Regions from separate parts of the Homo sapiens genome. Here regions 1, 2 and 3 are each linked to region 4. The links come from fine-mapping of genetic effects on gene expression. A gene starts in region 4. Each other region holds a variant in brackets. All regions are shown on one strand. Distances are from middle to middle. Region 1 overlaps FRMD4B (FERM domain containing 4B). Region 2 overlaps FRMD4B (FERM domain containing 4B). Region 3 overlaps FRMD4B (FERM domain containing 4B). Region 4 holds the start of FRMD4B (FERM domain containing 4B).

The links. PIP is the estimated chance that this variant, and not a neighbour inherited with it, causes the effect.
Region 1: its variant is fine-mapped to the expression of FRMD4B in aorta (GTEx, PIP 0.93).
Region 2: its variant is fine-mapped to the expression of FRMD4B in naive CD4 T cells (Schmiedel 2018, PIP 0.91).
Region 3: its variant is fine-mapped to the expression of FRMD4B in whole blood (TOPMed, PIP above 0.99).

The regions. Positions count from the first base shown.
Region 1 is chr3:69,357,535-69,365,786 of GRCh38, reverse strand. The region is part of intron 1 of FRMD4B (FERM domain containing 4B); the gene reads left to right. Among named protein-coding and RNA genes, the nearest start is that of FRMD4B, 24 kb to the left of the region's middle. The variant A/G (reference allele first, on the strand shown) is at 6,222.
Region 2 is chr3:69,244,363-69,250,755 of GRCh38, reverse strand. FRMD4B (FERM domain containing 4B) reads left to right here. Exons shown (of 23, transcript NM_015123.3): 6 at 657-713; 7 at 1,508-1,530. Among named protein-coding and RNA genes, the nearest start is that of LMOD3, 120 kb to the right of the region's middle. RefSeq lists an enhancer at 1,277-1,801. The variant A/G (reference allele first, on the strand shown) is at 1,976.
Region 3 is chr3:69,348,639-69,356,890 of GRCh38, reverse strand. The region is part of intron 1 of FRMD4B (FERM domain containing 4B); the gene reads left to right. Among named protein-coding and RNA genes, the nearest start is that of FRMD4B, 33 kb to the left of the region's middle. The variant T/A (reference allele first, on the strand shown) is at 3,040.
Region 4 is chr3:69,381,494-69,389,745 of GRCh38, reverse strand. It overlaps FRMD4B (FERM domain containing 4B), which reads left to right and starts at 3,658. Exons shown (of 23, transcript NM_015123.3): 1 at 3,658-3,918. The coding sequence starts at 3,757. RefSeq lists an enhancer at 3,581-4,191.

The DNA of each region.
Region 1 (8,252 bases), 24 kb after region 4:
GTGGCTCACACCTGTAATCCCAGCACTTTGGGAGGCCGAGGCGGGTGTATCACTTGAAGTCAAGAGTTCAAGATGAGCCTGGCCAACATGGTGAAGCCCCGTCTGTAATAATACTAAAATTAGCCAGGCGTGGTGAAGTGCGCATGTAATCCCAGCTATTCAGAGGCTAAGGCAGGAGAATTGCTTGATTCGGGAGGCAGTTTGTGGTGAGTCGAGATTGCTTCACTGCACCCCAGCCTGGGCAACAGAGCAAGACTCCATCTCAAAAAAAAGAAAAAAAACAAAGGTTGTATCTATTTATGCTACTACCAAGTGAATAAGAATCATTCTTGTCCACATTCTAGCTAGCAACTTTGATTTATACCAGTCTGCTGGCCAAAAATGTACATTTTATTTGTTTTTATTTTACTTCATTTATTAGTAGAGATGTCCAATTTCCATAACTTTCTTAAGGACCATGATACTTGGAATACTGGAGTTGTTCTTGCCCGATAACATTGGGGGAAACACATACTGTGTTTTGTCACAGTATAAATTGGTTTGAGAACAATTTTAGAGCCAGACTTGAGAGCAGGTTTTAGTCTCCTAGAGAATATTTGTCATCTCAGAGTGATATGGAATTTCCTTGTATAGTTAAAATAGGTTTATATAGAGCATTGCTGGTTAAAACCCAAGTGCCATAAAGATAGATGTTCACACAGCCTCTCTGTTATGCACTAAAATCTTAAGCTTTAGAAATGGCTGAGAATAGTTATTGCTTTTTATAATCACTATACTATTCGGTTTCATATTGTGGTTTCCTCCTTTACTGTTTAGTGAATTTCAGCAATTTTGTTTTATCTCTTCTGTAAATGGCCTAAACTTCATTTAGATGAACTGAGAAGGAATCACCAAGGCCTTTATTTATTTTTTTAAAAAAACAAGTGAGAAAGCTTGGGGTAGGAGAACAGAATGCTGCACCATTTATTTTTTCTTTTTTGTCTTAGATGCCCAGGGGTTTTTGAGCTTCTTTGGCCATCTAAATTCATATTTATTAACTTAAATATAATTTAACCAGAGTCGAATTGTCTCGATGAGATTTCATAGCCACGAGCGACCATGAAACTGTCATTTGTCTCATTTGGGGAGGCACCAGAACTGATTACTCAGGAGATGATTGAAACTGCTGATCCCATTAATGCCATGGTTATTCTGGAGATAGTGCCCTGAGGGTGAAGATGGGTTGACCCACAGATTTGTTTGTATATAGACTTTAACCAGAGCCAGGCTGACTCAGAGGCAAACTGGAATTGCTGCAGGAAGTTTCCCAATGAATGTTTTTGTCATATTTTTTAGCTGCTCACTCACCACTGGCATACCATTAGCACCCAGTCTCCCTTCTGGAGGTGCCCACCAGGCAGATGGCAAAATGGCAGGTCCCAGCGCATGCTTCCTGCCGTGGCCACCAAGGGGCCAGCTTGTCCTCTGTCTGTCCCCTGGTTCAGCTTGGCTAAACTTGCATGTTCCTGTCTTCTGAGTTTGAGCTAAAAGGACAGGATGTTTGGAAGTCAGAATCATCAAGGCAGTAACTGAGGTGAGTGGGACAGGCAAGATAGTCGCGTGACATAACTTGTTACTTTGCTCCCTGTGGGTTCTCTTGTTTTGTGTTCATTTTCTAAGCCTGATTTAAACATCCATTCTTTGCTTCTTTCATCCTGAGAGGCCTGATTTGGTTCAGGGATCAATATCACCCCCTTGCCCATATAACTTGGGTAAATACTGATTGATTGGTCTCTAACCCAGTGCTTCCCTACTTTCTCTGATGTCATAGAATACACAGAAAATGATAGTGTTTGTGTGGCACCTGGAGTAAATGGAAGAAGCTGCTCAGGCTGGAGGTGATCACCAAATTGTCTCTGGCTGCCTCCAGTCCTGAAAAGACCAATAGCTCAGTACACCTGTTGCCTCAGTACACTGGTTTTGAAGCTGTGGTTGAAGCTAGTCATGATGACCTTATTCCTCTGCCAGGGATTGGTTAAGGGTAAACATAGGACCCAGCTCTGGTCAATGGGGAGCCATTTCTTAAAAAGCTGTCTGTTCTTGAAAATAGGCATGGCTGGGCCAGGTGCAGTGGCTCACGCCTGTAATCCTAGCACTTTGGGAGGCCAAGGCAGGCGGATCACGAGGTCAGGAGATTGAGACCATCCTGGCTAACATGGTGAAATTCCGTCTCTACTAAAAATACAAAAAATTAGCCAGGCGTGGTGGCAGGCGCCTGTAGTCCCAGCTACTCGGGAGGCTGAGGCAGGAGAATGGCGTGAACCCAGGAGGCGGAGCTTGCAGTGAGCTGAGATTGTGCCACTGCACCCCAGCCTGGGCAACAGAGCAAGACTCCGTCTCAAAAAAAAAAAAAAAGGCATGGAGGCCAGGTGCAGAGGCTCATACCTATGATCCCAACACTTTGGGAGGTCAAGATGGGAGGATCACTTGAGCTCAGGAGTTCAAGACCAGCCCGGGCAACATGGCAAGACCCATCTCTATTTAAAAAAAAAAAAAAAACATGGTAAAAAGAAGTGATCCTTTTTTTTGGAGTGGAGATGTGAGAGCTTCAAGGATGGCAGCTATATTGCAACCATGAGGGAATGTTACGTAAGAAGAATGGGCCGGGTGGAAAAATAGAAGAAGCCTGGGACTTTTACGATATTGCTAATCTGTTGACCTCACCAACCTTGGCACTGCCCTACCTGGAGATACTGAGAATATAGATCCATATTATTAAAGTTATTTTCACTTTTTGTTTGTTTTTTTTTTTTTTACTGTAAAAAGCATTCTGATACAATATAAGCTCAGGACTTGAAGGTCAGGACTTATAGAAGAATTGTCCAACAACAACAACAAAAGTATTCAAAATGAAAAACTTTTTAGGAAACATATAATAAAAATTGGAGATGTGCTGATATAAGGAAAATGTTTAAGTTCAGAATAAGATGGGCAGGAATAGAAAGAAATTGTTTAAAATTCACAGTTCTTTATTTTAAAAAGTATGGGATTTTTAAATTAACATGATAGTTTGTTTTTGTTTTTTGTTTGTTTTTTTGGGGGGGGGGTTGGCTTTTTGTTGTTGTTGTTTTGAGATGGAGTCTCACTCTGTCACCCAGGCTGGAGTGCAGTGGCACGATCCCGGCTCACTGCAACCTCCGCCTTCCAGTTTCAAGCGATTCTCCTGCCTCAGCTTCCTGAGTAGCTGGAATTACAGGCATGCGCCACCGTGCCCAGCTAATTTTGTACTTTTAGTAGAGATGGGGTGTTACCATGTTGGTCAGGCTGGTCTCGAGCTCCTGACTTCGTGATAGTTGTCTTAACCAGAAATATTTACCAGTGTCTCAGTGAAATGCTAGAGAACTGGAAAGGATTCCAATTAACAATTGTGAGAGGCAGAAGAGCACACAAGTCAAGAGCCTGAAATTTGGAGCCAAACTGTGTAGGTTCAAAGCCTTCATCTGCTACTTCCTGGCTGTGATTTCATGTAAGTTATTTAACCTCTCTATGCCTCAGTGTTCTCATCTGTAAAATGGAGATAATAATAATAGTCCCGACCTCAAAGTTATTGTGGAGTTTATATTTATAATAAACAGGAACAGAGTATGGCACATATGAAGTACTATATAAGTGCTTGTTATTATTAATCTACAATTATCACCTAAACCTATACCTGTGCAAACAAAAAGTCACTTAAACACAAATGCTTCTACTACTTCACAGTCACTAAAATAACTAAAATTAAGAAGACCTATAATACCACATTTTGGCAAAGATGTGGGATAACCAGATCTCTCATATATTGGCAGTGTAAAATGGTATGACCTTTTAGGAAATTATTTGGCAGTTAAACGTACATTCATCCTATGATCTGTTAGCTCTATTCATGCACATTTATTCAAGAGAAATGAAAACATATGCATGTGCACACACATGCATACACACACAGCTTGTAAAAGAATATTCATAGCTTATAACTTCTAATACCCCCAAACTGAGAACAACTGATTTCCATTAACAAGAGAGGAGATAAATAAACTATACTATATTCATGCAATGGATACTACTCAGCGATCAGAAAATGAATGAATTGCTAATACATGCAACACCATGAATGAATATCAAAAACATTTTGCTCAGTAAAAGAAGCCAGGTATTAAAAAATACATACTCCATAATTCAATTTGTATGAAGTTCTACAACAGGAAAAACTAATCTATTGTGATAGAAATCTGAATAGTGGTTGTTATGGGAGGTAGGGAAAGATTGGCAGAGGTAGCTTTCTGGAAAAGTTTTATATCTTGGGGGGGATGTGGATAACATGGCTGTAATACCTAAAATATGTATTTTTATTATGCATCATTTATAGTGTAATTTTCTAAATGAAACAAAAAGCAGTAACAGACACTGCCCAGGTTTTGAGTAGTAAATGCACAAGATGAGCATCTTTTTATCCCAGGTAGCAAGGAAGCTGACAAATACTACTGGTAGCAAGGAAGCTGACAAATACTACTAAAACCATGTCACAAGGACTTGGAAACTGGCTTGAAGAGGCTCTCACTCACCAAAATGGCCCAATCTGAATATCAGTAAAGAAAATTTTAAAAAAAGAAAATAACTTTAATGGATTGAAACACATAAATTATATTTAAATGCATATGTTCATAATGACAAAATGCACTTTGACCACCCTTGAAAGTACCCAACTCGTTATTTTGGAAACTGGCAAATAAAGATAAAGAGTCAAACATTTTCTCTGCCTTTCTTGTATGAATTATACTACTGGGTAACCAATTAATAGATAAGGAAAAAAATCTCTCATTATAGAAATATTCTCACTAGTAAGTAAGGGATAATAGAATTAGAATGCCATCATACTGCCACTTCTAATTAATTAAATGATATAGCTGTTGAGCATTAGCAGCTGCTAATGTCACAAAAAGAAATGGCTCTTCTAATGAAAAAACACAAGTGGCGACCTATGAGATAGTATTGCCAAAAAAGATCTAACTGAAATCTGATAAAGCCTTGGGACTCAACCAACCTACAGGAACCATGGTAAACAGAGGAACATTTAAGTGACACCAAGGGAATGCAATCAGCAAAACTTAGGTGCTAGGAGAATTTACAGGATAAACAGCCTAGTTTCTTCAACAAATGAATTGCAATGAGAGAGAGAGGAGAGAAAAAGAGAGAGATGGATGGAACAGGAACCTGTAGGTTAACAGAGACCTAAGGAAAATATCAACCAGTTGCAAAATGTGGAGCTTTTTTTTATTTTGATTCAAACAAACTTGGGGAAAAAAGACATTAATCAGATAATTGGATATTTGAAGACTAGAGATCTGATGATATTAAGGAATTACTGTTAACTTTTTTAAGTATTTAGGGTTATGTTTAAAAAAGAGTCCTTATCTTTTATATTGAATTATTTACAGATGAAATTACTTAAGTCTTGGTTTTGCTTCAAAATAATACATATAGGAGGACAGAAAGTAGGCAAGAATATAAATGAAACAATATTAGCCAGGTGTTGATAACTTGAAACTAGGTGGAAAAATGGGAGGTGGTTATGACACTGGTCTTTGACTTTTTGTGTGTACTTGAAATTTTCCACTACAAAAACTTTTTTGTTTTGGTTTTAAAGGAATACAAAGGGAGAGAGAAAGGGGAAAACAAAACTCCAGGTTCTGCAGAAAGACAGGAAGGAAATCTAACAGAATGCCTGAGTGTTAACCCCTGGATGCATTCCACCTTGTCTACAATGGCCAAATGGAAAGGCCATTTGTAAGAGCATGGGCCCTGGGTTCAAATCCTGTTCTTCTACCCCCAACTGGGGAGACTTATGCTACCAGACATCTCCGTGCTTCAGTTTCCCATTTGTAAAATGGATTTCAAGAATGAACTTTGAATACCCTTTTCTCTTCATTTTTCCAAACACAGAGATGAGACTCAATTTTACAAAGTTTATGTGCGTCACCTAAAAAACTGCACGTGCCTTATGGTAAAACCAAGTCAAAAGTCATGGCCTTCAACCTGTGAAACAGACAGAAAGGAAACCCCTATCATGCCTGCTTCTCTCCCTACCTCTTTTCATCTCTGTTTTTCCATTTATGGTTAAGAAAACAAGAAAATTCGCCGAGCACAAAAGTTTTCCCTCTTTTTCTGTCTAGAGGGGAATATGAGTAATGAACTTTTCCATC[A/G]GGGTTGTTTTTCCTGGACATAGTGCACCCCCTCCAGCTGCTAAAACATGTGATCCTGAAGGAGACCTTAAATAAACTTAAATGTTCCTTATCGGTCAGTCCCAGTTTGTACTAAATTATGAATTAATTTTCTGTATTTGGTACTTTTCCTTTTTAAACAGAAGTTCTATTCATTCAAAATATTAGTTGAGAACTTTCCAGGTTCCACGTGTTATAGCCCTGAACAAGGCAGAAATGGTCCTGAAACCAACTAACCTGTGGCTGGCTCTTTCCTGACCTCCAGTCTTAATCCAGGAGCTCACTCTCCCCATACAGCGTTCTCCACCCCTCTTTATCATGTCCTCCTGCTTTATTTTCCTCCTAAGTCTTACTCTTGTCTGAAATTACCTCATTTATGAATTAAATTATTTTTTGTTTCATGCCACCCTCTGGATACCTCTCCTGCTCACTGCTGTTCCCCCACCACTTAGCACCATGCCCAGCAGAGCTAGCTACATAATTTACCAGACTCTACATATCTTTTCTGTGTCTATAGCCAAATACCACAGACTGGGTAATTTATAAAGAAAACAGATTTATTTGGCTCATGGTTCTGGAGGCTGGGAAGTCCAACAACATGGCACTGGCATCTGGCAGGGTCATCCCATGGCTGAAGGCAGAAGGGTGCACAGGTTCACAGGAAGAAACAGGAAAAATGTGGGCTGAACTTATCTTTTATTAGAAGCCCACCTCCATGATAACTCATCTACTTCTGTGACAATGAATTAATAATCCATTATCATGTCTTGAAGGTCCCACTTCTTTTTTTGTTTGTTTATTTGTTTGTTTTTGAGGCAGGGTCTCACTGTGTCACCCAGGCTGAAGTGTAGTGGCAGAGTCTTGGCTCACTGCAGCCTCAACCTCCCAGGCTCAAGTGATTCTCCTACCTCAGCCTCCTGAGTATCTGGGACTATAGGCGCATGCCACCACACTTGGCTAATTTTTGTGTATTTTGTAGAGATGGAGTTTCACTATATTGCCCAGGCTGGTCTCAAACTCCTGAACTCAAGCAATCTGTTTTTTTTGGCTTCCCAAACTGCTGGGATTACAGGCATGTGCCCCCCGGATCTGGCCAGTCCCACCTCTTAATACTGTGAAAATGGCAATCAAATTTTAACATGAGTTTTAGTGGGGACATTCAAACCATAGCACAATGCAAAATGAAAATGTGGGATTCCTTGTTCAAAAATGATTAAGAATTGTGAGACAGCAGAACACTAAACCAAGCATGAGGCCCTTCTGAGCACTGAATCCTGTGGGCCTACATAGGCCACACACCCAGCTCTGACATCCAATACCTGATAGACATTCAAAAAATAATTACTGCAGTGAATGCAAATTTAAGAAAAATCATCAGGTATCCAAGGAGCTCTGACATACAGATTGATAAAAGATTAAAAACAGAAACCAGCATGTGTGTGAAAGAAATGTGTAATTCCTCAATTGCAGAGTTGACTATGAGGTGACAAATAAAGTGATTACTCTTCTCTTTTTGAGAGATGCCAGGTCCAGGCTGCAAATTTTTCGAAGGTCAGAACCATGGTGTTTTCATATTTGACTTCCTTGTAAGGCCTCTGCATGTATTTGATGCTCAAGAAATATTTGAACTGAAACTGAATTGTTTCTAGAGGCTGAATTAGAGAAGGATGAGAAGTTATGAGGAAATATTTTTTCTTTAGTGCAAACCTCACTAAATTTAGGAGGAGATGAGCTGGTCTTCAAGTTTGTCCTCTTACTTTATGACAAATGGTTTAGTGCTATGCCCAGCTGTCAGAATTTTGGAAAACTGCAATACATTGCCTCTGTTGTGATTTTATGGTGCGTCTGGCATTCATTCAGTATGTGAAATGTTCTGTGATGAAAGTGATAGTTTTGAGATAAAACGCAAAGCTTCTCCTAAAGACAAAAATTGGGATCCTGCTTCCACAAATTTTTCCTTAAATTGGTGGACATATTTCCTTTATTCCACCCTCACAGTCAATAAAACCCTCC
Region 2 (6,393 bases), 140 kb after region 4:
TTTTGAATGATAAAAAAAAAAAAAAAAAAGGAAAACTGATAAATTAGAGTTCCTCGAACTTCAATATAAATCAACAGAATTTTAGTCTTCAAAGCATTTGCTGTAACTGATTTTTAAGGCCTCACATTTTATCTGTAATAGTACAAATATGAACTCAACAATGTGTCATTGACACAGAAGTGAATTTATATTTTTAATAATATTTACATTGTGTGTATACTGAAATAACCATGCTGTAACACAGGGGAAAAAAATTATCCCAGGAAAACACTCAACAAATGAATCTAGGAAATTCTGCAGAGTGCTTAAAAATGAACTTGCAGAGATAAAAATTTTTCATTTAGAAGTTTTCTGAATGTTTAGCCTCAAAGTCATTCCCGTTTCTTCCTGAATACTGCTCTCTACACATAATCCGTCACCACAGCTATTTAAAATAGACACACACACACACACACACACACACACGCACACACAGTGGTTTCGCCTTAACCCTCAATGAGTCTCTCCACACCCCCCACTTTCCCCTGCAATGGTATGATCTGCATTTGATCGTAAACTGGAGGTGCCAAGCTGTGACAGCTTCCTCAACTTCAGAGCCATTTGCTACAATCTAGGACAGCCCCATGTTCAATGATGCTTTCCTTTTCCATCAACAGGGGCAAATCGAAGTAGAGAGCGAAACCATCTTCAAGTTAGCAGCGTTTATTTTACAGGTAAGATTGGACAAACTGCCTCTTAGCAGCTCCCTTGTGTTTGTTCGTTTTTGTTAACTGCCTGCAACTCTGAAACTTTTGCATGGGCCAGTGTTTGTTGGATTTTTAAGCCAGTTAGTTGTTTGCCGATGAAAAATGTGCGCCACCGTCTTCTGCTTTAGAATAGTTTGCATGAGCTACAATGTGATATTGTGAGTCTCAAAGAAAAATGAAATTTAGACTGCTCTGAAGGAGAAGAATTAAACCCATATTCCTGGAAGAGAGCTCTGGGATACTTGAATTTGGGAGGCAGCAGTTGTTACAACAGCTGTAATTTTCATTTAAATTTAGTAACTTTTGTATACATTTTCTTGTGGTCCAGTAAAAGAGCCCTTTAGTTCTTAAAGGCATTAGTCTGTTTCCATGCTGGTTTAAAAAGTAAAGGGAAAACAAATAGTATGTGTTGGTTTACCTGTATTGTGGTTTAAAAGGTCTTCCTCCAGTCTAAAAAGTGTGCCACTTGAATGAAAAGCATTTATCATGTGATCTTAAAAACGTACAGTGAGAAATAATTATCTGTGCTTTTTCACATACATATGTTTCTTTTGTTAAGAATAAGGAATATTCCTAACAGGACAGTCAGGGTTTTCTTATCAATGCCTAATTCTTCTTATGCCTATAGGGAGAGCATTCCTGAGAAACACTCTTCAAAACAAAACTCAGGAACTTTAAGAGGGGAAAGTAATCAAGATAAAACTCATTTAGCTTAACAAAGATACATATTGATCAACTCTGTTTTTGTTTGTTGTTTTTAGGAAGCCAAGGGAGATTATACCAGGTAATGCTTTTCTTTTCTGATATTACTATGCAAAATAACCCTAAAGAATCATTTTATGTGGTTATTTTAAATAACAATGGATACAAAATCAAAGGAAAGTAGATCTGTAAGGCAGGAGACTGAGATCTCTTCGCTCTTCAAATAGAGACCTATTCTTTTTGTGAATGAATCAGGGAATGATGCTTTCTTACAGTTTTTGAAGCCAGAATGACAGCGATGGAACCAGAAGCTCTCCAAAGTTCTGTTTTCTGTCATCTGTTAATTAGTGAGATGAAGAAATCTATAAAAAGCTTTGATAGCTTATGCTGATAAAAAAAAACCTTACAATAATCTTGTGTTCGAAGAGTTATAATGTATGCACAAAAAGATTAAATCCATCAGCTGCTTAGTTAAGGGATTAATAGGGGCTTTCTTTCACAGCTGCCCCGAAGGGGCCTCACCCTTC[A/G]TACACTTGACCTAACAGTTGTATTGTTGCTGCGGAGACACTTAATGGTTCTAACTGCCTCACTGGCCACATCCACAGAGGGTGTTTATATTTGAATTCACCCTCTACCTGCTCCATTCTGTCCTTTTAATGCAATCGTTGGAGTTGTAGAGAAACAGTTAAAGGGTGGAGGCAATGCTTCCCTTTGTAGGCCAATGACCCCTTTGAAAGCCTGGCCTCTACGATGTTAATGTTCGACTCCTGGTAGACGTTACTCGTAGATTATTTACAGATCACCTAGCACTCATTCCCAGCCAAGTCTTTGAATAATGTGCCCCTTAACGGACTAACAAAATAATGCCTTCCAACCTTGAAAACTTCCAGTTACGGAGTTGTACTTCAGTTCGGAAACTCCCAACACTCTCCTCATCTTCCCATTCGGCTTTGGTAGAATGTTCAAGGATGCCACTTAAAACACCATGATTCCTCACCACAATCTCCCACCAGTTCTGTTTTGTGCTCTCTCTATATATATATATTTGTGTGTGTGTGTGTGTATTTACATTTTTCTAGGTTAAGAAATTTGAAGAAATCATGAAAATCAAACACCAGTTGTTTTTAATGGAAAGAAAGGGGCAGGAGTTTAAAAAAAAAAACAAGAGTATAAGGTAGTTTACAGACCATTAGTATCATTAAAGGCTCACGCCTGAGGCCGGGCATGGTGGCTCACGCCTGTAATCCCAGCACTTTGGGAGGCCGAGGAGGGAGGATCACTTGAGGCCAGGAGTTCCAGACCAGCGTGGCCAACATGGTGAAACCCTGTCTCTACTACAAATATAAAAATTAGCTGGGTGGCCGGGCACGGTGGCTCACGCCTGTAATCCCAGCACTTTGAGAGGCTGAGGCGGGCAGATCACAAGGTCAGGAGATCGAGACCATCTTGACTAACACGGTGAAACCCTGTCTCTATTAAAAATACAAAAAAATTAGCTGGGTGCGGTGGCGGGTGCCTGTAGTCCCAGCTACTTGGGAAGCTGTGGCAGGAGAATGGCGTGAACCCGGGAGGTGGAGCTTGCAGTGAGCCGAGATAGTGCCACTGCAGTCCGGCCTGGGCAAAAGAGCGAGACTCCGTCTCAAAAAAAAGAAAATTAGCTGGGCATGGTGGCAGGCACCTGTAATCCCAGCTACTCAGGAGGCTAAGGCAGGAGAATTGCTTGAACCTGGGAGGCGAAGGTTGCAGTGAGCCAAGATCGCGCCACTGCACTCCAGCCTGGGTGACGGAGTGAGACTCAGAAAAAAGCTGCTGTGTCTCTACTGTTGTCTTCTCCAGAAAAGCCACGTTTCCTGGGAATATCAGATATGCAAGGAACACAGTCATTTATGGGGGTGATTTTTAAAAAACAACCCTGGATAAGAAATCATACGGGAGGTGATTCTAAAGTCAATTTGTAAATGAGGGTTTCAGGGCCCAAAAGCTCACACTCAATGGATTGCTAACCCACCTTCCCCACTTAGCCCCAGTCAAGGCTGTGACTGACACCCTCTGAGCCTCAGTTTCCTCATCGGTAAAATGGTACCTTTCCCATAAAACTGTCATGAGAATCAAATGTATGTAAACGTTGCCCAGGGCAACATCTGGCTTATAGCAAGTAATCTACACCCTTGGGCTATTATTATTAATTTAGTTATTATTATCCTCATTATTACTATCATCCTATCTGGTCTCTTATCTACCTCTGATGAGACTTTTGAGACTAAGGTTGGTCTGAAGAAGCTGTAATAACCTATAGTTATGGGGGAGGTGGAGAATAGAAAAAGAAAGGGTAATTTCACAAACCTTCCTTAGGGAAGATCCCTTGCCTGAGGCAAAGGAAGGCCTAAAAGGGACAGTCCTTCAGTTGTTCAAACATTTGAGCCCTAGGACATCAAGGTTGGCGAGTTAATTCTGGGCAAGCCCAGTCCAGACCTTTGCCTTCACTCGAGCTTGTTCCTGGTGGTTTTCCTGAGTGATCACGAGGTTGAAGTGGCGCACACTGTTTTGAAATTGTCCAAACTACACTAAGTAGTGGAGAGAGCGTGGGACTGGAAATCACGCAGACTGGCAACATCCCTCTGAGTGGCCACTTATCCTGTCTGAGCCTCGGTTCCCTCATCTGTAAATTGGGGTTAATCAAAACAATGGCTTTGCAGGTTGGTTTTCAGGACATGTGGGAGCATTTTGCAAATTACCATGCTCTCCCTATCTGATCTTCTCCCCTGAATAGAGAGGATATGTTTTTCCTCCAAAGTTTTGTTCTAAAACTCCTCTTTGTTTTTCTTTTGTTTTATTTTGTTTTTGTTTATTTTTGAGATAGAGCATTGTTCTCTCACCCAGGCTGGTGTGCAGTGGCATGATCTTAGTTCACTATAACCTCCACCTCCTGGCTCAATCAGTTCTTTCATCTCAGCCTCCTGAGTGGCTGGGACTACAGGTACACACCATCACACCTGGCTAATTTTTGTATTTTTTGTAGAAACAGGGATTCACCATGTTACCCAGGCTGGTCTCAAATTCCTGGGCCCAGCTGATCTGCCTATGTTGGCCTCCCAAAGCGCCGAGATTACAGGTGCAAGCCATCGCACCCTGCCTTGTTACAAAACTCTTCTGAGAAAATCAGGCGCCGGGTGCCGAGCACAGTGGCTCACGCCTATAATCCCAGCACTTTGGGAGGCCGAGGCAGGTGGATCACCTGAGGTCGGGAATTCGAGACCAGCCTGGCCAACATGGAGAAACCCTGTTTCTACTAAAAATACAAAATTAGCTGGGCATGGTGGCACATGCCTGTAATCCCAGCTACTTGGGAGGCTGAGGAAGGAGAATCTCTTGAACCCAGGAGGCAGAGGTTGTGGTGAGCCGAGATCACACCATTGCACTCCAGCCTGGGCAACAAGAGTGAAACTGTCTCAAAAAAAAAAAAAAAAAAAAAACAAATTAGCCTGGCACGTTCGCAGACGCCTGTAGTCCCAGCTACTTGGAAGGCTGAAGCGAGATAATTGCTTGAACCCAGGAGGTGGAGGTTGCAGTGAGCCAAGGTGGTGCCACTGCACTCCATCCTGGATGACAGAGTGGGACTCTGTCACAAAAAAAAAAAAAAAAAGAAAAGAAAATCAGCCAAGGCCAGGTGCAATGGCTCACTTCTGTAATCCCAGCATTTTAGGAGGCCGAGATAGGCGGATCACTCGAGGCCAGGAGTTTGAGACTAGCCTGGCCAACATGGCAAAACCTTGTCTCTACTAAAAATACAAAAGTTATCTGTGCATGGCAGCACACATCTGTAATAACAGCTCCTGAGGAGGCTGAGACACAAGAATCGCTTGAACCTGGAGGTGGAGGTGGAGGTTTGCACTGAGCTAGAGATCGTTCCACTGCACTCCAGCCTGGGCAACAGAGCAAGACTCTGTCTAAAAACACACACACACACACACACACACACACACACACACAAAGAAAGTCAGGCAAAATAAAATACCATGAGGCAATGTTGTAGTGGTTAGAGCAAAGACTGTGGAACCAGACAGCCTGATTCAAATGCCAGCTTGGCTACTTATTACCTGTGTAATCTTGAACAAATTACTTAAAATCTCCAAGCCTCAGTTTCCTCATCTGTAAAATGGGACTTACAATTATAATACACACTCCATAGGATTGCTGTGAGGATTAAATGAATTAATATTGCATTTGTAAAGTATTTAAAACAGTTCCTGTAATCCATCTTATTTTACCAAATTGATGGACATGATGGACTCCCCTATTGTTACAAATATTACTTGTTTCCCATATAAATAATGGGAAAAAAGATGTTCATCATGGCCTTATTTATATTAGCTTTTTTTCCCCATAAAGCTAATATAAATAATGCTGTGATGAACATCTGTGTGTATTTATTTTTAGTCTTGCTCTGTTATCCAGACTGGAGTGCAGCTCATTGCAACCTCCACCTCCTGGGTTCAAGCAGTTCTCCTGCCTCAGCCTCCCAAGTAACTGGGATTACAGGCACATACAACCATGCCCGGCTAATTTTTGTATTTTTAGTAGAGACAAGTTTTCACCATGTTGTCCAGGCTGGTCTCAGACTCTTGACCTCAGTGATCCGCCCACGTCAGCCTCCCAAAATGCTGGGATTTTTGTTTAAACAGAGTCTCGCTCTGTCGCCCAGGCTGAAGTGCAATGGTGCCATCTTGGCTCACTGCAACCTCCACCTCCTGGGTTCAAGAGATTCTCCTGCTTCAACCTCCCAAGCAGCTGGGACTACAGGCATTGAGACTGTGTCTCAAAAAACATGATAAACAAACAAACATTGACCAAAATATGTCCCCAAATACCTTCCTAGGCAAAGTGGCTTTTTCAGTAAAAACAATGACTGACCACCTAATTCTTAAGGCTGCTCTGGTCCACTCCT
Region 3 (8,252 bases), 33 kb after region 4:
AGGGAATGACTTCAGGTTCAATGGCATTTCATAATTCAGACAGTGACATTGGAGTATGTCTCTCTCCAACTCTTCTGTCTGGCATGAGGTTTCCTGGTAGCCCCAGATTTTCATCCAAGCAACTTTGTAACTCCAGAACAAACAAAAACAAAGATACTTCTTCTCTGATCCCTATGACTAATGGGTATGGGGTGTATTAGTAAGGGTTCTCTAAAGGGACAGAGTTAATAGGATATTATATATATATGTATATATATTATATATATGTATATATACGTGTGTGTATATATGTATGTGTGTGTGTATATATATATCTATATATAAAGGGGAGTTTATTAAGTATTAACTCACATGATAACAAGGTCCCACAATAGGCCGTCTGCAGGCTGAGGAGCAAGGAGAGCCAGTCCGAGTCCCCAAACTGAAGAACTTGGAGTCTGATATTCCAGGTCAGGAAGCATCCAGCACGAGAGAAAGATGTAGGCTGGGAGGCTAGGCCAGTCTTGTCTTTTCACATTTTTCTGCCTGCTTTATATTCTGGCCACAGCGGCAGCTGATCAGATGGTGCCCACCCACATCACGGGTGGGTCTGCCTTTCCCAGCCCACTGACTTAAATGTTAATCTCCTTTGGCAATACCCTCAGAGGCACACCCAGGATCAATACTTGGCATCCTTCAATCCAATCAAGTTGACACTAAGTATTAACCATCACATGGGGGTAGAGTGATTTTATTGGTCAGTCTTGAATCACATATTCATCTTCTTTATATGGGGATATGGGGTTCCCCCCTACCCCCAGTTATTTGGATGGTGTCCCCAAAGAAAAGCGGGGATCCTGTTTCCTAATTTTTTTTCTTTTTTGAGATGGAATCTTGCTTGCTCTGTCACCCAGGCTGGAGTGCAGTGGTGTGATCTCAGCTCACTGCAACCTCCGGCTCCCAGGTTGAAGCAATTCTCCTGCTTCAGCCTCCCGAGTAGCTGGGAATACAGGTGCCGGCCACCACACCTGGCTAATTTTTGTATTTGTAGTAGAGATGGGGTTACGCCATGTTGGCCAGGCTGGTCTCAAACCCCTTACCTCAGGTGATCTGCCAACCTCAGCCTCCCAAAGTGCTGAGATTACAGGTGTGAGACACTGTGCCCGGCCTCCTAATTTTAATACTCCTGGTAGACTCCATCTCTATGTGTTCTCACACCATAACCTGAGCTTACCCAGCCTCCCCCCTAATTTGGTCTGTCAACCTTCATCTGGCCCTCAAGCTGCCCTGGCCTCCTGGTTTTAGCCTTGCCTAATCTAGCCCAACTTGCTGCTGAAACTGGCTATCAACATTCCGATTGTCCTTCAACAGTGAAAACATTTTTACCATACAATCAGAAATGTCCCACTAGTTCTCTCAGTCGACTCTCCAACCCAGTAAGAAAAGGTACCATGTATTGAGTTTTTACTGTTATATATTAACAAATAGAAGGTTCTGTCAAATAAAGTAATACAATAATTCCCCACCTTCCAAACAAGAAGACTCAGGCAAATGTTTTGGGTCAACCTATATAAAATTTTAGAAATGTATATGAAATATTAGAAAATTTACTCCTAATATTAGGAGTGCTCATAACACTTGTTATGCAGATTAATAACTGGAGTGATTTCTGCCTTGTGCTCTCCCTCTTGATAGGATAATTTTATTCAGCTTCTTCATGTGCATGTGTGTGCTGGCACTGGAACAAAAGTCCTCTTTGAGTCATCCTTTTATCACAGCGCAGCATCTCCACTTCTGCCCAAGTTGTTTGAGCTATATAGCACTTTTTCAATCTCCATATATGATGCTTTTCTGGGAATATCATTGCCCAGCTTTTTTTTTTTTCCTTTTTCCATTTATCCTACAAGTATATGTGCATGAAATAATGTTTAAGTAACTTGTTTCTTCTAACATCCAACCCGTCCAATTGGGAGGTCACGTGCTCACAAATAATTACTAAATATGTATTAAACTTTTTGCCACCTTTTCTACTGATATCATCAAGTGACTTCTATTTGCATCCAAACTTAGCATTGACTGAAGTTGTTACAGGCTGCCATGTCTTCCCCAGACAGTATATTGTGGTCATAGTAATTAGAGTCTTTAGAAGGATCTGAAGATAAAGCCACTCCCCGGTTTCTGAGGGATTAACATTTTGTGGGGGTAAAGGGAGGTACCCCACCCTATATTTAGATACCTGTGGTATCTCCCAGGCAAATTCTTTGAGCTTTGCATGAACTATCTCTTTTAATTTCCCCAGCACTCCTGAAGGAGATCAGGATTTTTATCTCCATTTTACAAAGGAGGGAACCAATTCTCAGAAAGATCAAGTAACTTTCCCAAGGATATATACAACTGTAAAACACGAGGTTTCTCTGACTCTAGAGAGTCTTAGAGATTTAATCTTATGGTTATATTCTTAACCATACCATACTCCTGAGCAAAATTCCAGACTGTTCTTTTTTTCAGGAGGGAGAAGCATGATACCCTGTCACAAACTTTTACTTAGTCATTCTCTTTTTTTAAAAAAAGTAAATTTATTATTTTTCCAGTATTCTATATGTTTTTCTCTCTGCCTTCAAGCATAATGTATTTTGATTATTTCCTATTCACTGAATGACTTCAATAGTAATGATTTCATTAAATGCAAATAGTGAAATGAATCTTTTCTGAGACCACGTCATTCTGCCAAGATTTTCTGTTGTGGCTGGCATCTCTGATTGATTTTACTAAGGTTGTTCCATGGAATTCTAAGTTTCTTTCTGAGTGGAAAAGCTGTTAACATCAACTGGCTGTGAGTAGCAAAGTTGAGTTAAATATTGTTTTTATTTATATTCATTAAATTCCCAGCCTCATCCAGAACATGCATAGAAGTTTAGATTCATACATGGCATCGCCTATCTCTGAATAATTACCCAACCTAAAGCTTGCATTATCAAGGAAGTTTAGAAAACAGTAGATGACATTTCATCATATGTTTTAAATGTGTTGTAAAGAAAGCGTTTGAGTGGCCAAAAGAAA[T/A]AGCAGAAGTTTTTTAGTTGTTTTTATTTTCCCATTTCTCCCGTGACTCATATTGAAAGGCTTTTGTTTCTAATCAAAGAAACAAACAGTATGGTCATTTCCTTGAGATTATATGGCAGCGGAAGGCGTCGGGAGTTTTTAAGTTCCTACTTCCACTGGCTTGTAGTTGGAGAAAATGCAAGCACATGCGCGCACACACACGCGCGCGCACACACACACACACCGCACAAGTGCTTAATACGTGTGTCTTTTGTCTTAAGCACTCTCTTCAGTTCCTTTAAATGAGCCGAGGTCATGGTGGTTCGGAGGTAAGAATGATTTTTTTTTATGATCTTCCAGTTGCAGACTGTGTAACGGTGCTTCTTCAGCTTTGACTGGCATTTCATAGCAAAATCTTGGGCAGATTTTAATATTGTACTGGGGGTGGACTAATCTAAGAACTAATATTGCAGAACCCAACTTGCAGAAAAGGAAATTACAAGAAATGTTTATCTTCACTCTTGTGAAGGAATTACTTTTTCCAAAACGGAGTTGGATGTGCTCTGTTTGATACCAAGTGAAGATGGTCCTTAAAGACGCCCATCGTCTGGAGGGTTTTCCTGTCATTGTTTTAATGCTATCTTTGCTCCTTTAAAGGTCGTGAAAGGCTGATTTCTTATTTTGCTTTAGAACTTTGGCAAATATGAAGTATGTAATTCCACTTCATCACCCTTTCCCCTGCTCCCACCACTCTCCTTTTTTCTTCTTCTTTTTTTTTTTAAATTTTAAATACTGGAGTTTCTTTATGGATGTAGAAAAGACAGAGAGAGGGCAGGAACTGTGTCAGTAAGCAACACAGAAATGCTTTTTGATTTATAATTGTTCATCGTTTCATCAGCAAGATGTGTTTGGGGCCTTCCCTGTTTTTGTGAACACTTGGCAACAAAAATTCCGTGGTGTCCTAGAGCTCATTAGCAGCCCATCTGAAAGGATCCTTTGATGTGGGTCCCTGCTTTGCCTCCAGAAAGAAGAAGGAAAATTGAATTTTGTCCTCCAGTCTAGTTTGTGGTGAGGATTCTATGTGATCAGAATTCAGCAGTTCAAGATAGAAACCTCGGAAATGCCATTTTTGGGGACGGCTTCCAATTAATTAATAAAACTTTTATGATTTGTCAGAGGAAGTCCTACATCCTTATTAAAGGGAAGGTTTTTTTTCTTTGCTGCCTTGTAATGTGGTTATGGCAAACTCATTAAGTCCAACTCCATGTGGCCATTTTTCTTCCTTGATGGGTAGATGTTGATGGTGGAGGGGAGGAATATCTGGGTAAAAAACAAAGGAAATTATCTCATCCAGTAGACTGCAAAACTCCTGGGGATAGAAGGAAGTCTGTAGAGGAAGTGGGCAGGATTGGGTAGAGAAGAGAAACATCAAAGAAATTAAATATATCACAATAGGAACTGGAATAGTACCCTTTTGCTATAATGTAACAACATAATAGTGTAGCCTTAGAAATGAGTCCATTGTCTCTAAATCGGTCCTATCTAAAGGTATCTAATGTCCGAAGGAGTGAAAAGGAATATAATCTTATCCAAATGCAGTCCTGTGACCTGGATTCTCAGAGTGACATTATGGTGACCTAAGGCCTCATTATAAATGATCCTGTTCTGAAGATTCAGGCCATAGAACATCCTGAGAAGTAAGACTATCTTGTTATGCAGCTCTTTCAGGGGTCAGAAACTACAGCTCTTAGCAGAGGGCCTAATATATTCCCAGATATACCAAGTCCCACTCCAGAGCATACTCTGTGTGTTCCACTGTGTTTGATCCTACATTTGAAGTATGCAGGGAAGTTGTTACTACTAGAATGGAGGTTGCTGCAGACAGGTACTATGTCTCACCCATGGAGAGAATTCCCAGTAACTATCAGGAGGCAGGGTGATGGGTGGTGGACAAATATTATTGGCTGAGCAGAATTGTTAGATATATTTATGCCATGGAACATTTAAACCAGAAGAAACCTTGTAAGTCACTTTGTCCAATCTCCTCATTCTGTTACTGAAGAGATTAAAATCCAGAGAAGAGGAGGAATTTTTCTAAGACTTCCTATCCCGTTAGGGGCAGGGCACAGCCTGGATTCTGGATCTCCTGAGTTCCGAATCTATGCTCTGTCCACCCTTTGCCTTTTCTGGGCCAGAGGATGATTTTGCCTAATTTCCAGCATCTCTGAATTTCATGAAGCAAGAGTTTCTTTACATGGGTGCGTGCATCTTGGAATAGAAAAGTGGGAGCTGCATCCAAATGAGATTCTGCTTTCTGTTCTGCATGGTTTCCAATTGCTAGCAGAAGCCTGTGCACAGGTGTGCAAAAGACCCCAGGAAAAGAACTACATGTCTTGTCTCTTATCACAAAAAGCTATAGTGCTAGGTAAAACCATACTAAAACACTTTCTCTTTGTTTCAAAAATATTTTGGCAACCTGAAAATACTAGTGAGCTCTCAGCAGAGGCCTGTCTCGGGATCATAATTCAAGTATGAGACTTACGTTTGTCCCTGAGGTAGATTCTGTGAAGCTCCAATTAAGACTTTTTTCTTGCTTAATGTTGGAAAACTAGAAAAAATTTTAAATGCAATATTTTCCTAAACTGGAAAAGTAAGCCTGAGTACAGGTAAACTATACATTAATATATGTTTATGTGATTTGGCAAGGTTAAACAATCAATTTATTATTCCAATAACAGCAATCTAAGAAAGGAAGGTATTGGGCTTGCTGTATACTTCAGTTGCTTTTTTTTTCCTTAAAGGAAGCTTTTGTAGATCAGGCTGTAAAGGTATGCACACTTCTGTTGTCTTGTATTGGTTTATTTTCTCATTTGGTTTTCTTTTTTTATTATTATTATACTTTAAGTTCTAGAGTACATGTGCACAATGTGCAGGTTTGTTACATATGTATACATGTGCCATGTTGCTGTGCTGCACCCATTAACTCATCATTTACATTAGGTATATCTCCTAATGCTATCCCTCCCCCCTCCCCCCTCCCCACACCCCAAGGCAGGCCCCAGCGTGTGCTGTTCCCCTTCCTGTGTCCAAGTGTTCTCATTGTTCAATTCCCACCTGTGAGTGAGAACATGCAGTGTTTGGTTATTTGTCCTTGCGATAGTTTGCTGAGAATGATAGTTTCCAGCACCATCCATGTCCCTACAAAGGACATGAACTCATTCTTCTTTATGGCTGCACAGTATTCCATGGTGTATATGTGCCACATTTTCTTAATCCAGTCTATCACTGTTGGACATTTGGATTGGTTCCAAGTCTTTGCTATTGTGAATAGTGTCACAGTAAACATACATGTTCATGTGTCTTTAAAGCAGCATGATTTATAATCCTTTGGGTATATACGCAGTAATGGGATGGCTGGGTCAAATGGTATTTCTACTGCTAGATCCCTGAGGAATCGCCACACTGTCTTCCACAATGGTTGAACTAGTTTACAGTCCCACCAACAGTGTCAAAGTGTTCCTATTTCTCCACATCCTCTCCAGCACCTGTTGTTTCCTGACTTTTTAATGATCGCCATTCTAACTGGTGTGAGATGGTATCTCATTGTGATTTTGATTTGCATTTCTCTGATGGCCAGTGATGATGAGCATTTTTTCATGTGTCTATTGGTTGCATAAATGTCTTCTTTTGAGAAGCGTCTGTTCATATCCTTTGCCCACTTTTTCATGGGGTTGTTTGTTTTTTTCTTGTAAATTTGTTGGAGTTCATTGTAGATTCTGGATATTAGCCCTTTGTCAGATGAGTAGGTTGTGAAAATTTTCTCCCATTCTATAGGTTGCCTGTTCACTCTGATGATAGTTTTTTTGCTGTGCAGAAGCTCTTTAGTTTAATTAGACCCCATTTGTCAATTTTGGCTTTTGTTGCCATTGCTTTTGGTGTTTTAGACATGAAGTCCTTGCCCATGCCTATGTCCTGAATGGTATTGCCTAGGTTTTCTTCTAGGGTTTTTATGGTTTTAGGTCTAACATTTAGGTCTTTAATCCACCTTGAATTAATTTTTGTGTAAGGTGTAAGGAAGGGATCCAATTTCAGCTTTCTACATATGGTTAGCCAGTTTTCCCAGCACCATTTATTAAATAGGGAATCCTTTCCCCATTGCTTGTTTTTCTCAGGTTTGTCAAAGATCAGATGGTTGTAGATGTGTGATATTATTTCTGAGGGCTCTGTTCTGTTCCATTGGTCTATATCTCTGTTTTGGTACCAGTACCATGCTTTTTTGGTTACTGTAGCCTTGTAGTATAGTTTGAAGTCAGGTAGCTTGATGCCTCCAGTTTCGTTCTTTTGGCTTAGGATTGACTTGGCAATGCGGGCTCTTTTTTGGTTCTATATGAACTTTAAAGTATTTTTTTCCAATTCTGTGAAGAAAGTCATTGGTAGCTTGATGGGAATGGCTTTGAATCTATAAATTACCTTGGGCAGTATGGCCATTTTCACGATATTGATTCTTCCTATCCATGAGCATGGAATGTTCTTCCATTTGTTTGTGTCCTCTTTTATTTCATTGAGCAGTGGTTTGTAGTTCTCCTTGAAGAGGTCTTTCACATCCCTTGTAAGTTGGATTCCTAGGTATTTTATTCCCTTTGAAGCAATTGTGAATGGGAGTTCACTCATGATTTGGCTCTCTGTTTGTCTGTTATTGGTGTATAAAAATGCTTGTGATTTTAGCACATTGATTTTGTATCCTGAGACTTTGCTGAAGTTGCTTATCAGCTTAAGGAGATTTTAGGCTGAGACAATGAGGTTTTCTAAATATACAATCATGTCATATGCAAACAGGGACAATTTGACTTCCTCTTTTCCTAAATGAATACCTTTATTTCTTTCTCCTGCCTGATTGCCCTGGCCAGAACTTCCAACACTATGTTGAATAGGAGTGGTGAGAGAGGGCATCCCAGTTGTCAAGGGGAATGCTTCCAGTTTTTGCCCATTCAGTATGATATTGACTGTGGGTTTGTCCTAAATAGCTCTTATTATTTTGAGATACATCCCATCAATACCTAATTTATTGAGAGTTTTTAGCATAAAGGGCTGTTGAATTTTGTCAAAGGCGTTTTCTGCATCTATTGAGATAAGCATGTGGTTTTTGTCTTTGGTTCTGTTTATATGCTGGATTACATTTATTGATTTGCATATGTTGTACCAGCCTTGCATCCCGGGGATGAAGCCCACTTGAT
Region 4 (8,252 bases):
TCTGCACATCTGGGTTCAGTTGCCACCCACTGCAGTCCCTGGAGTGGAGGAAGTTGTATTTCCTTCCCTCTAAAATCACTCAGTCTTGACCTTCGAACTTCTTCTACAAAAGAGGAAAGCCATTTGGATAAGAAAAAAAGCATCAGTGTTTATGTCAGTAGAAATAAGATGTCTTCTGTCTTGCACCCAGCTTCTCTGAGTCCACGGGACAAGTTGCCTCTAGTGGGGAAGATCAAGCTCAAAAAGCTTTTTGGGAACTTGAAAGAGCAACAGAACTGCTCCCTGAAAACAAGTTGCCACAAACTTTCACCTTCAGCAAACAGAAAGTCATAGGAAAGCACATGTAGGTAACTAGTTGAAATTTAAAAACACATTTTATAATATGTACACAGGGACATAGAGAGTGGACTAAGAAGGCTTGGCACAGTGGCTCACGCCTGTAATCCCAGCACCTTGGGAGGCCGAGGGGGGAGGATCACGAGTTCAGGAGTTCGAGACCAGCTGGCCAACATGCTGAAACCCCATCTCTAGTAAAAATACAAAAATTAGCCTGGCGTGGTGTTGTGCACTTGTAATTCCAGCTACTCGGGAGGCTGAAGCAGGAGAATCACTTGAACCCGGGAGGCGGAGGTTGCAGTGAACTGAGATGGTGCCACTGCACTCCAGCCTGGGCGACAGAGGGAGACTACGTTTCAAAAAAAAAAAAAAAAAAAGTAGACTAAGAGACAATGGAGACTGGGGAGGGTCAGAGGGTGGGAGGGGATGAAGGATGAGAAATAACTTAATAGGTACAATGTACACTATTCTTGTGATGGCTACACTCAAAGCCCAGACTTCGCCACAATGCAATATATCCATATAACAACACTGCACTTATACTCACTAAATCTATCATTTTAAAAACCCACATTTTACTTATACTGTTTTATCTGACTACAAAAAACTGAAGCAATTCTTGATTCGGGGGGTTATGGTGATTAGTTTTCTTTGGATGCTTACCCTTCACCAGACACCGTGCTAAAGACCTTATACAGAATATTTTACTTAATTTTCCCCAAACTTTTTGTAGTGAATACTGATAATACATTGTACACATGAGGACATTGAGACTTTGTTGACTTAAGGAGCTTATATGGGGTCTCACGGGTCCTGAGGAGAGGAGATCTGAAGTTGGGTGGGTCTCTTTTAGAAGATTTAGCTCCTAATCACCATACTATCACTATTGTAGTTCTCTAATTTTAGCATGAGTCGGAATCCTCCAGAGGCCAACTGAAAGCTCTGATCGCTGATCTCACCCCCCAACAATTTCTGATTCCAGGGCTGCCTGAGAGCTTGCATCTCTAGCAAATTCCCAGGTGATGCTAAAGCTGCTGGCCCAGTGACCACACTTTGAGAGCCCCTATTATACTACATCCTATCTTCTAAAAAATTGCCCTGACTTTGGAAACCTTGAATGAAAATGATGGAATTTGAAAGTGACTGCTGACATTAGACCTACGCACAGATAGCTAACAGCCAGAGTGTTTCTAGAGCCTCTCTTCTGAGAGGATGGTGTCATGAGACAGAGGTAATTGACCTGTTGTAGGTTTTATTCTGGTATTCCCTTGGCTGCCTGACATTTCCGAGAACACAGTCGAACTGCATCGTTTAAAAAAAAAAAGTACCACCACCATTTGCTCGTACTAATAGGGCATTTTTGAAGTTCAGTAGTTTTCCATTCAGCATGATGACAGTTCTTTTTCAAGCTAAGTTCATTTTCTTTTGATTCAGTAAAATCTATTATATTCAGATTCATCGTTACCATCATCTTGAAAAAAAAACCATCAATACTAATACTGATGGCACATAGAGAAGACTTATTGTGAAGAAAGGTTTGCAAATCTTGGACCAAGTCTTGTGTCCTATTAACTAATTCAACAAAAACTCTTGGGCAATTTTATTAACGAAAGAAATCTCATTTAAAAGTTTTCTGATTACAGTCACTGAAAACAACAGGCACTTTGAGGACAGATTTTGTGTTCTTCGTCTTTTGACTGATTGAGTTTCACCTGAATTAAGATTATAAAAGCACATTTGATACCTGAAATCAAGCTGATTTACTTGTCGATAATCTGTTCTGGAGTCTTCTGGGCTAGTTCAGGAGAAAAGCTTTGGTGCCTTACCTTTCCTTTTGGTGCCACTTAATAGCATAGATAACAACCCAGATGTGAAACAGCCAAGAAAATACAGACAATTGACTTACAGATGGATTCAGGAAAAAACTCCATCCTGAAATTTGCTACAGCACTTTTGCTATGAGAAATCTTCATACATTCTAAGGGAAAATGGAGGCTGGGCACAATGGGTCATGTCTGTAACGCTAGCACTTTGGGAGGCTGAGGCTGGAAGATTGCTTGAGCCCAGGCATTTGAAACCAGCCTGGGCGACATAGTGAGACCCCATCTCTACAAAAAAAATAATGATAATAAACTTAGCACCTGTAGTCCCCGTGGCTGAGGTGGGAAGATGGATCACTTCATCCCAGGAGTTCAAGGCAGCTGTGAGCTATGATTGAGTCACTGCTCTCCAGCCTGGGCAACAGACCTTGTCTCAAAAATAAATAAAGGAAGACAGAGACTGGTGGTAGGCGAGACTCCTTGAGCTCCCTTTTCCAAATGTTTCCAACAATCAGCATCAATTCCCGAGGGAAAACTTTAATAAATAAATAAATAAGATTAATTATCTAGTGACTTCATGAGTGGTGGAACAGTTTCCTTTGGTTTTGAGGGGAGAATAAACTACCCATGCAGGTTGGTGCTTGCAGGTGAGGTTAGACATGTCCAGAGGCTGAATTTTCCAGAACTAAACCACCGATTCTCTTATGGGCTTCTGTTTCCCAGCACTAGTAACGGCAAGCTATTTACAAGGGACCAAGAACTCTGTTTTTCTCCCTGACTGCTGCATTGGTATTAGCAGCATCTTGGTGTGAGGAAACCTGCCTTCCTGCTGGCAACCACAGGAGGCTGTCATTTTCTCTGAGACCCTCAAGTTAGGAGCAAAGGCAGGTTCTAGGGCCGCCTGTTGCTTTGAGACTGTTGCCTTCATCTCCTGCTTCCAGCAGAACCAAGGAAACATTCGTGGCTATTCCCCCAGGAGTAGGGTCCAAAGGGATGCCTTGGAGATTTTTTTTTTTCTCTCTCTCTCTTCTGCATCTGTGGCTGCCCAGAGGTGTTTTATCAGTGTGAACAGAGCAAGATGAGTAAGGTGTTCCCCGAGGCAGATTAGGAGACCACTCGTCCGGTGTGGGGGGTGTGTGTCTGTGTGTGTGTGTGTTCGCGCGCGCGCAAGACGTGGAAGCCAAGTGTGCTGAAATGCAGCTCCCCTCTCTGCCTGCAAAGAGTTGCTCCGCTTCCGTCCCTGCCCCGCGCCCTGGGGAAGCGCCAGGGGGAGTCCTCGCCGGCCAGGGCTTCCCGTGCCCCGGGAGCATCGAGGGCCAGCTTGGTGGAGCTTAGCACAGCTTGCTCGGCGCTGCGAGCGGGCGGGGGTGGACACTGGGCTTCTGTGTGCCAGTCGCAGCCGTTGGCTGGCGGGCACCCAATCCCAGGGCATGCCGCCGGAGCCTGGCCAGGACGCACGGTGAAAGACGAGTTTGGTGGCAGGCTTGACCCCCCGGCTGCCAGCAGAAGCCGGCGTCGGGAGCCCAGGCGGGCAGGCCGCTGGGGTCGGGGCTGCACGTACGAGAGCCGGGACGCCCGGGTTCAGAGCGAAGGAGGAGGCATGGCTTCGGTGTTCATGTGTGGCGTGGAGGACCTGCTGTTCAGCGGCAGCCGCTTCGTATGGAACTTGACCGTGTCCACGCTGCGGAGATGGTACACGGAGAGGCTGCGGGCTTGCCACCAGGTGCTGCGGACGTGGTGCGGGCTGCAGGACGTGTACCAGGTGAGCTGGAGCGCGCGGCACCCGAGGGCCCCAGCAGGATGCCGGGCACTCGTGGGAAGCAGGCTCCACCTGTATGATTTTATTCCCCCCAGCTCTTCTTAAACTCCTAGCAGACTGCTTGGCCCTTGGGTCAAACGCTCAGCAGCTCTAGGTAATTATTGCTTGACAGAGCTTGTGAATTTTTCAAATCGGGCATGGGGGGCACTTGCGAGATAGTCCCAGCGTTTGCAGACATCTGTTACAGAGCAATGGTGTACTGGCGGGCGCTTGACTAGGGAGGCTGTTGCTTTGCAACAGAGGGTCTTCAGAAAGCCACTTAGACATTCAAATGAGTCCTTCTTTTTAATTTCATTGGGGGTGGGAGTGGCTGCTTCTGAAGCAACGGTTTCACACCAATTTGCTGGCAGAGGGGGCCTTGGTGGATTTTTATCCTTCCGTTGGATTTTCAGTTTTCCATCAGGCAGCCCCAACTTGTAAGGCAGAGCCAGGAAAAGCTGATTCTGTGTCTACTGGCTTTTGGAAGGAAGGACAGCAAATTGTGAACACTTTGCAGGAGGATGACAGGCTGGGGAAGGGAGGGGTGGCCCGGCTACACGTTGGAATGCTCATGTTAGGATTTACTCCCTGTCACACAACACAGCCCCTTTATTTCTCTGCTCGGTCCCATCCTGCAGGCAAAAAATGCAGCAACTTTGCTCAACTAGGAGACCATTCATCCTCTCTGGTACTGCAGTTTGCCTGGATTTCTTTTTTTTTTTTTAGACAGTAATTTATGAATTTAAAAGTTCTGTGCTTTGGTTGTTAATATATTTGAGATTTTTAAAAATCTGCATTGTTTAGAAATATACTTGGTGTCTACTGTGGAAAGATAATATCATATTTTCTTTCCTGTGATGTGGAATAGCTTTGTTGCAGTTCCTGGATTTCCCCCCATTTGACCCTGTTCCTAATATGTCTAGAATTTATGTCTTATTATATTGTGTCTCATACATGATCAAGCACTTGATTTTGACAAACCATAATCTTCCATCAATCAGGCAAAATGAAAAGGCCAGCACCTAAGGTTAGCCTGTGGAAGTCTAAAGAGTCAGCGTCCCCTTGTCACCCTTGTTAAAATATGAGGAACATTTGAACTTGTGCTTTCACTGCTTCTGCTTTGTATAACATATCTGTGATATCTTGCATTTTGAAATGGAATCTGAAAGGCAGGTTGGGAACCAGGGCAGCATGTGGGAGTTTGAGAGTATTAGGGAATTGTGGATATATCCCATCTGGCCACATTACATAGCTCTCTGGCTTTTTGGAGCCAGAAGTGTGTCTGTCTTTCAAGCCTTTTTTTTCCTCTCTTGGGAAATCCCTGTTCAGTTTGGTCTGTAGAATAAGTGCCCCTTATGTAATTTTGTTTTTCCTTTTTAGTGTTTGAGAAACTTTCAAAAAGGGAACGCAAATATTGTAGCCAACCAGAGTGACTCTGTGCCTCACTCCCCAAGGATTCAGAGGATTTATGGCTTATCTGTAATACTGTTACTGACCAATTCAAAAATAAAGATTCCAGAAACCTGAGACCTTATGGATTCTTTATAAGGTTGACTGATAATTTTTATGCAGAATAGCAATTTGAGACACTGAGCTACTAAAATATATGTATTTTTTTCTTTTCTCTAAAATGGATGGTGACTGAGCCAATACCATATCATAATTGATAAGAACATCTAAAATAATGGTGGTAGTCAGGCAGTGTGCTGTGTGTCTATAATCCCAGCTACTCAGAAGGCTGAGGCAGGAAGATCCCTTGAGCCCAGGAGTTTGAGGCCAGCCCGGGCAACATAGTGAGACCCATCTCTTAAAAAAATAAAAAATAAAAAAAAAATAAGTCCCCACTCCTTATTTTTAACTTTAATCAATTGTACATTTCAAAATAACTAGAAGAGAATAATTTGAATGTTTCTAGCACGAAGAAAAGATAACGGTTGGGCACCATGGCTCATGCCTGTAATCCCAACATTTTGGGAGGCTGAAGTGAGAGGATCACTTGAGCCCAGGAGTTCAAGACCAGTCTGAGCAACATAGTGAGACCCCATCTCTACAAAAAATTTAAAAATCAGCCAGGTATAGCGTCATGAACCTGTGGTTCTCTCTGCTCAAGACGTTGAGGCAGGAGGATCACTTGAGCCCAGGAGTTCAATGCTGCAGTGAGCCATAATTGTCCCACTGCACTTCAGCCTAAGTGACAGAGGGAGACCTCCTCTAAAAAATTAATTAATTAAAATATTTAAAGCATTGGCTATCCCAATAACCCTGCTTTGATTATATGAATGTGTCACATTATCACATGTACCCCCGAACTATGTACATCTAATATGTATCAATGAAAATAAATAACAAAGGCTTTTATGAATACAGAATCAGAAGAAAATGATCTCTAAGTTTAATATTTCCTGTGCTTTTGCAAAAATAAGATTTTCAAAAATATTTTCAGCCTTTGAATATTCTTAATTGTGCAACATAATCCTTTGCAAAGGAAGATCATTTTTTAATGCTTTTCAAATATTAAGTGAAAAAGTAGTGACTTAATTGTGTAGAACTAAAAGACAGTAACTGCAAGTTAAATAGACAAGGGAGTTAATCCAGTCTTTGCCTATGTATGACCGTGGGTAAGTTAATCTTACTATACTTCAGCTTCATCATTTATAAAATGAGAAATTAATAGTACTAATCACAGAGATTGATAAAAGAATTAATTGACGTGAGATATTTAGCACGCTGCCTGGAGTTTAGAAAGCATCCAATAAATGTTATCTTTTCCATGAGTTAGGATTTTTTTTATTATAATAGAAAACCCAATTCAAACTTGCCTACAGAGTAAAAAGAAATGACTTTTGTCACAGCTGAAAAGTCTAGCAGTAGAATGAACTTTAGGTATTGTTTGATCAGGGTACCATGCTTTCAGACCTGGTCTTGCTGATGTGTTGGCTTTATCTTCAGCTGGTTTCTTCCCTCACAATAGCAGATAATCACAGCAGTTTCAGGCCTTATATCCACACATCCAGAAAGAAAGAATTTCTCATATCCTCCAACTATCAAAAAAAAAAAAAAAAAAGTCCCAGTTTACATGCTGGAACTCCAATTTAGGGTCTGTACCCACTCCTGATGCCATGCACTGATTGGCACAGAGTATGGGATGACAATTTATGCATTCTCAATGAGAGTGAAATGGCCCAAAGGAGGCAAAAATTGTTTTGGAGGAGGGGGGTGGGAAAAAAATTCACTACTTTTATTTATAAAGCACGAATATACATGCAATATATAAACAGAAATACAGCATATCTGTGACATTAAAATGGGAGGGATTGGGCTGGGTGCAGTGGCTCACACCTCTAATCCCAGCACTTTGGGAGGCCAAGGTGAGCAGATCACTTGAGGTCAGGAGTTCAAGACCAGCGTGGCCAACATGGCAAGACCCCGTCTCTACTAAAAATACAAAAAGTAGCTGAGTGTGGTGATTCATGCCTGTAATCCCAGCACTTTGGGAGGCTGAGGCGAGTGGATCACTTGAGCTTACGAGTTCGAGACCAGCCTGGCCAACATGGCAAAACGCCATCTCTACTAAAAATACAAAAATTAGCCAGGCATGGTGGCACATGCCTGTAATCCTAGCTACTCGGGAGGCTGAGGCATGAGAATCACTTAAACCTGGGAGATGGAGTTTGCAGTAAGCCATGATCACACCACTGCACTCCAACCTGGGCAACAGAGTGAGACTCTGTCTCAAAATAAATAAATAAAATGAAATAAAATAGGAGGGGTGACAAACAAACAAAAATCTAAAAAGGCTCCTTAAGCAGATAACAATGAATTAAAAGGTTAAGAAACACTGGATTGCATTGATTTGCTGAGGCTAGAGGGGAAGGGACCCATTTCTGAACCTAGGATTGAGGTTGGCCCTACTCAGACCACAGAGCTGCCAGGGAGGAAAGGCAAAATGTTTGGCTGAAATGCAACCAACAATGTTCACTGCATCATTAGAATATCAAATCTAGTGCTCTTTACATAAAAATATTAGCTATTTTTCAAGATAAGTACAAAGATTAATGCTCAAATACCTTTGTATGTATTTTGCCACAGGAATTTGAGTTAAGGGGCTTATCATAAGATTACCCCTTTGCTATCCCATAATTGTGAATTCTAAATCAGAGAGGGGATTGTTCCACTGCACTGCTCAGCTTTCAGGCATATGGACTAGAAACACACACACCAGGGAGTTACATATTTTACTGAACCAAATTTTAGATGATCTTGTTGATAAAAAGGTGTCATTTTTCTTGCTTCTAGTC